Regions from separate parts of the Homo sapiens genome. Here region 2 is linked to region 1. The links come from fine-mapping of genetic effects on gene expression. Tissue or cell type: whole blood. Region 1 holds a variant in brackets; the other region holds the start of a gene. All regions are shown on one strand. Distances are between the middles of the regions. Region 1 has its middle 13 kb from the start of SWINGN. Region 2 holds the start of C13orf46 (chromosome 13 open reading frame 46).

Evidence for each region. PIP is the estimated chance that this variant, and not a neighbour inherited with it, causes the effect.
Region 2: C13orf46 starts here. The variant in region 1 is fine-mapped to the expression of C13orf46 in whole blood (TOPMed, PIP above 0.99).

What each region holds. Positions count from the first base shown.
Region 1 is chr13:113,940,124-113,944,502 of GRCh38, forward strand. It overlaps a transcript of C13orf46 not described here. Among named protein-coding and RNA genes, the nearest start is that of SWINGN, 13 kb to the left of the region's middle. The variant T/G (reference allele first, on the strand shown) is at 2,215.
Region 2 is chr13:113,971,622-113,975,972 of GRCh38, forward strand. C13orf46 (chromosome 13 open reading frame 46) reads right to left here and starts at 2,455. Exons shown (of 7, transcript NM_001365455.2): 1 at 2,187-2,455. The coding sequence starts at 2,376.

The sequences.
Region 1 (4,379 bases):
GGGGGCTGCGCCTCGGCCTCAGATGCACCGTCAGCCGCATTTGGCTCCTCTTACTACTGAAGAGGGGAAGGAAGAGTGTGCAGCAGGGGCCTGGGCCGTTTCCCCGGAAGCGAAGAGCAGGAGGCCAGAGCCAGGTGGGCTCCCCTAGACCCTGCGGTGCTGCCGCCAAGCCCCCCACCCCCAGATGAGCCAGCCTGCAGCACACACTGGCGGGGTGGATGCCAGCCGAGTATTCCCAGGGGAAGCACTTTCCCTGTGCCACCCAGACAGAAGACGCAGGTGCTGGTTTCCTATGGGGCTCTGCGTGAGGATGGGCGTCTGGGACCCTGGTCTCCTCTAGGACTCCATGTGTGAGGCTGGGCATTCGAGACCCTGGTCTCTGGGACTCCATGTGTGAGGCTGAGCGTTCGAGACCCTGGTCTCTGGGACTCCATGTGTGAGGCTGAGCGTTCGAGACCCTGGTCTCTGGGACTCCATGTGTGAGGCTGAGCGTTCGAGATCCTGGTCTCCTCTGGGACTCCGTGTGTGAGGCTGAGCGTTCGAGACCCTGGTCTCTGGGACTCCATGTGTGAGGCTGAGCGTTCGAGATCCTGGTCTCCTCTGGGACTCCGTGTGTGAGGCTGAGCGTTCGAGACCCTGGTCTCTGGGACTCCATGTGTGAGGCTGAGCGTTCGAGACCCTGGTCTCTGGGACTCCATGTGTGAGGCTGAGCGTTCGAGATCCTGGTCTCCTCTGGGACTCCGTGTGTGAGGCTGAGCGTTCGAGACCCTGGTCTCTGGGACTCCATGTGTGAGGCTGAGCGTTCGAGACCCTGGTCTCTGGGACTCCATGTGTGAGGCTGAGCGTTCGAGATCCTGGTCTCCTCTGGGACTCCGTGTGTGAGGCTGAGCGTTCGAGACCCTGGTCTCTGGGACTCCATGTGTGAGGCTGAGCGTTCGAGACCCTGGTCTCTGGGACTCCATGTGTGAGGCTGAGCGTTCGAGATCCTGGTCTCCTCTGGGACTCCGTGTGTGAGGCTGAGCGTTCGAGACCCTGGTCTCTGGGACTCCATGTGTGAGGCTGAGCGTTCGAGATCCTGGTCTCCTCTGGGACTCCGTGTGTGAGGCTGAGCGTTCGAGACCCTGGTCTCTGGGACTCCATGTGTGAGGCTGAGCGTTCGAGACCCTGGTCTCTGGGACTCCATGTGTGAGGCTGAGCGTTCGAGATCCTGGTCTCCTCTGGGACTCCGTGTGTGAGGCTGAGCGTTCGAGACCCTGGTCTCTGGGACTCCATGTGTGAGGCTGAGCGTTCGAGACCCTGGTCTCTGGGACTCCATGTGTGAGGCTGAGCGTTCGAGATCCTGGTCTCTGGGACTCCATGTGTGAGGCTGAGCGTTCGAGACCCTGATCTCCTCTGGGACTCCATGTGTGAGGCTGGGCATTCGATACCCTGGTCTCTGGGACTCTGTGTGTGAGGCTGGGCGTCTGAGACCCAGGAACGTGCTGGAAACAGGAGCTGTTGACATCGTTTCCCAGGCTGGGCTGCTGCTGTTTCTCTGCCTGTCAGATGGAGACACAGTTCCAGCCTCGCAGGTGGCCTTCAGCACAGCACGCCAGGCACCCTGGGTGCTGCCCCCACTCTCCCCACCCAGAAGGCAGCTGCGCAGGGTCCCTGGCCTGGAGGACCTGCCTGGACCTGCCCAGCGCCCTGGACGAGGTCTGCCCTAGGCCTCCGCATGTCACCTGTCCTCTGAGCAGTTCCTGCCACTGCTTTACTCTCACCGCCTTCCTCTCCCCTTAGCACTTTACCTCCAAATGGGCTGTCCTTGCCGGCGGCTGACTCATTGCTCCTCCAGAGCAGGGAAGTTTGCAATGAGCTGAAGTCCTGTGGAGCCCAGAGCCGGAGGCTCACCCCCAGATTTAATTAATTAAAAAGTAAGAGCTTGTGAAGGTCACAGGGGCCAACATGAAGAGCTGCCAAAGGCCGATCATGGTGGCATGAGCAACAAAACGCACAGAGGCCGTGCTGATTGCAAACCACAGAATCCACTACTGTGGTCACTGACCTACACTTTTCACAAACCACAGAATACAATAGACGCATATGAGTTCTGCTGCTGTCGCCACTGGCCGGGTCAACACGCAGCCCGGGAGGAGGGACCCACTGCTCTTCCCTGCAGGAGAACCTCGATGGATAAATGCCTGAGGAAATGGGGAAACAGAAAATCACCACGAG[T/G]CAAAGTCCACGGAACTGATTGCTGCTGACAAGACCCCCATGGATGCCAAAATCAGAGAAGTTCCAGGAGAATCAGGATTTGGTCTCCCAGTGTCTCCAGGACGATTATCCCCTACAGAGGAAGGACGGCGATTTGACCAGGAGACTCGGCAGACACCACCTGGACCTGTAGTTGGACACATCAGCTCAGGAGCCACTGAGAGACAGCCTTACCTCCACAGGATGCTTGCCAAATGGGCTGGACTTCATACAGTCCTGAGAACACGAGACAGCAAAATCCATGCCCAGCCCCCAGGACAAGGATGGCCAGAGCTGACGCGGGCACGGGCAACCAGGGGACTGGGTGTCTGGATGCAGTGAGGGAGGATGAGGGAGACGGCAGGGCGCGGTAGGAACCCCTGGGCCAGCGGGCTCCAGGCAGCGGAGGCGGCCTGTTGGTGATCGGTCAGCCAGTTACTGTGCCCTTTACCTTGAGGATGGGACACAGGTCCTCTGGCGTCTCCTTGGACTCCCTGATGCCTCTGAGAAAGGCACAGCGCCCCAGTGCCCGCCGGAGGTGAGGTGGGAGCCAGGTGGGAGCAGTCAGTGCCCCTCACGAGCACTGCAGATGGCCGGCGGCCATGGCTCTCTAAGGCCCGCTTGGTGGATGCTGAGCCCTGCCCTCAGGGAGCGCTGGCCCCTCGGGTCCCTGGGCCCTGACAGTCCCACTGAGGCTCGGCTCCATTTCTGCAAATGGCTGCCTCCCACAGGAGAGCTCGGGGAGAGCTCCGGGCCGGGGTCAGACAGCAGCGTTGGCTCCTGTCAACAAAGAGTCAAACTCTGTAAAATGTGGGGAGATTCATTCTGAGCCCAAGACAAGTGACCGTGGGCCATGACCCAGCCCTCAGGAGGGCCTGAGGACATGTGTCCAGGGTGGTCAGAGAGTAGCTTGCTTTTATGCATTTTAGGGAGAATGAGACTTCAGGCAATACATTTAAGAAATATGCTGGTTCGGCTCAGAAAGGCAGGGCAATGCAAAGCAGTCAGGGGAGCAGAACTCTCAGGTTATAGGAAGATTTAAAAACTTTCCGGTGGACAATTGGTTACATTTATCTAAAGACCTGGGATCAATAATAGAAAGGAATGCCTGAGTTCAGATCCAGGATCCTGGAAACCCAGGTTCTTATTTGTGGAGGAGGCCTTCAGGTAGCAGCTTCAGAGGGCTGTGAAATGTTTCTCATCAGACTTCAGGTCTGTGTGGACGTTAATGCTGGAAAGGTAGAACGAGGCATGTCTGACCCCCGTTCCCGTCATGGCTGGAAACCACCTCTCGGGTTACATTTTAAGAGGGCTCTGGTGAGGACGAGGTCCACTCAGATGGTTGGGAACCTTAGTGTTTTATTTTTGGCTTACGCTCTGTTGGTGGGTGATGACGAGTGTCAGGCATGGCCCCTTGCAACGTGAGGGAAGGCAGCAGGGCCTGTGGCCAGGGCTGGTGGGAGCCCTACCAGACATTCCATGGAAACACCTGGTGGAGGAGGCTCTCAGCAAATGCCCGCAGTCCCTGCACCCGGCTGGCACATCTCCACGAGCGCGCCTCCTCCACACACTCATCGTGGGCAGGTTTGGTCATCACTGACGGGCTGCTCTGCCTCTCCTCTCCTCTGGCTCGGGACCTTCAGTATCCCGACAGGAAGGAATGCGGTACAAGTGCATCCCAAGACGCACGCTGCAGGTCACCCCAAGGCCTCACAGACCCCAGTCACCCCGGGATGGATCCCTCCCCAGGTTGTGACCTTGCTCCCCTCCTGCTGGAAACCTTCTCCAGACACAAGCCCCTCAGGTGGCAGGGCTCATCTTGTCCTGGAGGCTGCCTTCCCCTCCCCTGATGCTCCAGACCCCTCCAGGTCACCTGGAGATGGATGCAGAGAAGCTGCCCAGCTCCCCATGTCCAGGGTCACCTCACTGCCGGGACCCCCTCCAGTGGGCTTGCACCCCCCTGCCACCCCATTCTGATCCCGGCTCTGCTGAGGCCATCCTGCTGCCTGCCAGGACCAGGTGCCAGGGCAGGTTGCTGCTGGATGGGCTTCCTTGCTGGGTTACCTGCTCCGATGGGGAGAAAGGTCCTCCTTACACCGCACTGACAATGGCCTTGGAAATGTTCCCCTTGCGGCCCTGTAGGTGTG
Region 2 (4,351 bases), 31 kb after region 1:
TGGTGCCCCCGTGAAGTCGGCCACCCCACGTCTCCCGCATCCCGGAGGCCTCCCTGTGAAGTGGACGCGGCGTCTCACACATCCGGGCACCTGTGGGTGCACGTGGCACTGGGCATGTCATGGAGCCCACCAAGTCTGCGAGGGGTGAGGAGCTGAGTCCCTGCAGAAACCAAGGCCACGTCGGACTCTACCAGTGGTCAGCAAGGCCCGGCCCTTCTCCTCGGGTCACAGGGCTGGAAATGCCTCCTGCTCTTCTCCGGCAGAATCTCAGTTGTCTGGGGGCAGCCACAAAGCTCCAGGGAGGATGCGCTCCTGGGCCGTGGTCTCGAACCCTGAGGGTGCTGGTGCCTGGGGGAGGCTGTGCAGGGTGGACATCTTTGCCAGACAGGACAAGCGGCCACACAGAAGCCCGGCCTCCCTGCTGCGGCACCTCCCATCGTGCAGTTTTGGGCAAATCCAGCAGGTGTTGAGGGAAATGTCAGCCACAATGGGGCTCAATCCCTCCCTCCATCCGACCCCGGCCTCTAAGTCCGCACTGTGGTGGCATCGGGCGGCATTATTGGAGATCCACTCCCCGCCCCAACTTAAATTCCCGCTAAGCAGCCTTGGCGTAACTTATTCTTTTGAGAACTTTGCACGTCTTGAGGGAACCCCGTGGGGAGGGAGGTAGGGTGCAGCCTCCTAACTACTCACGCCCCCCAAATAGCACATATTTGGATTTTTAAACTCAGAGAAGAACACATATTTTTACATCATTACCTCTTAAAATTGTCCCCAGGGCTTGAGCAAGCAAACCCCGAGTCCTACCGGGCTGTCTCACTTCCACGGCCCCGTGGACACCTTTGCGAAGGGGAGGCGGAGCTGCCGAGGCCGCGGGAGGGGAGGGGAGCGCCAGCTCGCAGCTCCGTGTCAGCCCCTCAGCCCTGTGCTCTGGGCCAGTATTCAAGGTGTGAGGAGGTGACTGCAGCACCATCCCCAGGCCCACACCACCGTCCGTTCGGCACACCTGGAAACATCTCAGAGTGGCGAGTGTGGACCGACACAGGGGCAGCCTACACGTTTCGCGGTTTAGAAGCCAACCGTGTCAAACACCAGCTACGCAGGTTCCTTGCTGGTGGGTGAGGCCCAGAGCTCCTGGCAGGGACCCAGGCCCTCACCAGGGCCTTCTTGCAAACGGGGCGCCTGGCTATGATCCTCCCTTCAGGCATCGGCTGGCTTCGGAGGCCCATGAGGGTCCCAGGCCTGCCCTCCTCTCACCCCTCCCGCCCTTGGCTGTGCCCGGCTGGAGCCCCCACAGCTCCGCCCCAGCAGCGCAAGGCCTTCCCAGCAGCCCTGGGTGGGTTACGGGTGTGGACCTGGAGTGCTCCCCACTTCCACCCTTAGCGTTCCGAGCACAGGGCAGCGGGAGGCAGGAGGCCCGGCCCGGTCCCTGCTGCCGGTGGAAGGAAAATGAATCTTGGGCCCTGAATCACTGAGCTAAGGGGAGGAGTAAGGCTGGGAATGTGTCAGACAAACCTGCCTCCCATCCTCTTCCTAAACAAGAGCTGCAGAGATAAACGGCCACAGGCCTCCCTCATCATTCACCCACGAGGAAATTCCTTGTGAGCCTTAAGATCTCTGCCCTAAGCAGTTTTGTGGAGTTTCACGCTGGGAATGCACGTGGACAGCTGACCGTCAACAGGCGCAGGACAGGGACAGAGATCACGGTCCTCCCTCTGCTCACCTGAGACAAGTGTGTCCGACAGCTCCCTCTGGGCTGCTCATGAAAAACCGCAGTCACGGAGCCGGACGAGGATACAAGTGACTCTCCCTCTAGTCCCCTCACGTGTAAATTGTGTGTTCAGTGAAAGGCTGATCGAGACCCAAAGAATGCAGCCCTGTGTCTCCTCTACCTACGACCTGGAAGCCCCTCCTGCTTCAGGCTGTCCCTTTCCGGACAGAACCGACGTACCCCCTCACAGGTGCTGATTGATGCCCCACGCCCCCCTGCAATGTATGACGTCAGGCCGTGCCCCGCCTTGGACACACGTCGTTGGACCTCCTGGGGCTGTCTCGGCGCATCCCTAACCTTGGGAACTTCCTAGAACTTTCTAACTGGGCTGGGCTCTGACGCAGGTACTTTGGGTTCAGTGCCTGGTGGGACAGCCGCGCCGTCCACCCGCTCCCCGCGGCCCCACAGCCCCTACCCAGCTCCTTGTGAGGCTTCCTAGGGCGGCTGGGAGGGTCCCCCTCGGGCTGCAGGCCTCCCAGACTCCTGCTTCGCTGAAGTTCAGAGGCCTCACTGGCCGCCTTGAGGTGCCCAAGGGCCACTCCTGAGGGCAGGGCCCTGAGGCCGGGCCGGTGCCTCCTGTGTGTGGTCCCCGTGTCCTTCTCCATCCTCCAGCCCAGCCTCGGCTTGAGCACAAGGCTGCCACCCTCACACCCAGCCGTCCCGCAGGGAGTAGTCAGGAGGTGCTGGGAGTGCGTTGCCATGGGTCTGCTGTGACATCACTGTAAGGTCAGAGGCCAAAGATCAGCCGATCCCTGGCAGCACAGCGTGGCTTTCCTGCAGGCCGGGGCTGGGGCGGGTTCTGCGTCTTCCCTTCTTCTTTCCCGCAGGCCGGGGCTGGGGCGGGTTCTGCGTCTTCCCTTCTTCTTTCCCGCAGGCCGGGGTTGGGGCGGGTTCTGCGTCTTCCCTTCTTCTTTCCCGCAGGCCGGGGCTGGGGCGGGTTCTGCGTCTTCCCTTCTTCTTTCCCGCAGGCCGGGGTTGGGGCGGGTTCTGCGTCTTCCCTTCTTCTTTCCCGCAGGCCGGGGCTGGGGCGGGTTCTGCGTCTTCCCTTCTTCTTTCCCGCAGGCCGGGGCTGGGGCGGGTTCTGCGTTTTCACATCTCTGGTCTCTCCACCAGGGAGGGCGGGGAACTGGCACCAGCCCTAGCAGGGCCTGCAGATGAGACGCCGGTCTCCCTCTGTGACAGGGTATTTGAATCTTTCTCTCCCTATCAGGGCAAATGGGACACAGATCAACTCAGGAAGACAAAGGCAGCCCCTGCAGGCAGTGGTGGGGTGCAAATGCTGCCGGCCCAGCGCCTCTCCCCACCCACACGGCGCCAGGACGAAACCCTGATGTGGCCGGGGCTCCGGCGAGGGCTTTCCGGGCCGACGGTGTGAACTGCACAGGTCAGCGTGGGTTTGCTGGCACTCCCAGGCAGGCGGCTTAAACAGCGGGAGCTCATTCCCTCCGGTGCTGGGGGCAAGGTGTCTCGCAGCGCTGGTTACCCGAGGCCTCTCTCCTTGGCGCGAAGATGACGTATTCCGTGTCCTCACGTGGTGGTCCTGTGTGCTGCGTCCTCGTCTCCCCTTCTCATGAGGACGCTGGTCACACTGGGTCAGGGCCTCGCTTTACCTTGACAATCTCTACAGCTCCACGCCCAAGTGCAGCCACACCCTGAGGTCCTGAGGGTCACAGGGTCACAGCTCCAGCATGAGGATTTGCCGGGACAGAGTTCAGCCTGTACTGAGCCGAACAGAAAATCCCCGGCACGCTGTCTCCTCCAGCCTCCAGACCACGGTGGGTGGGGAGGCAACATTTTACCTCTTGGGGTTTTTTGGTCGGGCCTGATAATTAAAATCAGCAGATGAGCTGGAGAAAGGCACACGCACTCCAGCACGGTCTGTGTGGCCGGGAATGGCCTTTCCTTCCTGAAAGAGGAGGTAACACCCCACGGGGAAGACGCTCTCCAGAGCCAGAAGAAAGCAGCGTTCTTATCCTTGTGGATGGCTGTTTCAGCTCAAAACAACCCTTACAACAGTGTGGCTTATTTGGGCAGCCCCTTCTGCCCCTTGACAGGCACCTCGCGAGCCGGCGCACCCCCCCGCCCCCAGGACCCGCTTCCCGCACCCGGGGCTCCTCAGCCAGGGGGAAGCAGGTGTGACCCCCAGGCTGCAGGCTCCCCTCCTTCTGATCTCTTCTTTTGAAGAGCCCACAGCCTCTCAGCACCCAGGAGGCCTCAGCTCTCTGGGCAAGTGGTGGGTGCAGGGTGGGGGCCTTGGCCTCACACACGCTCTGGCACTGCCTGGCCTCCTGGGACGGTTCCTCAGAGGCACCTGCTTTGGACACTCTGATGTCGGGAGCCCCGCGGATGCTGCCAGGATGGGAGAGGAGGCCGCTGTCTCTCTCCAACAAGTGCTGGGTCGTCTGGAGCAACAAGGGCAAATGGGCGTCACTGGGGTCTCCACAAAGCCACCTGCAGTCTCTTGGTGGGTGTATTAGACAGTTTCCATGCTGCTGATAAAGACATACCTGAGACTGGGTAATTTATAAAGAAGAGGTTGAATGGATTCAGTTCCACATGGCTGGGGAGGCCCTGCGATCA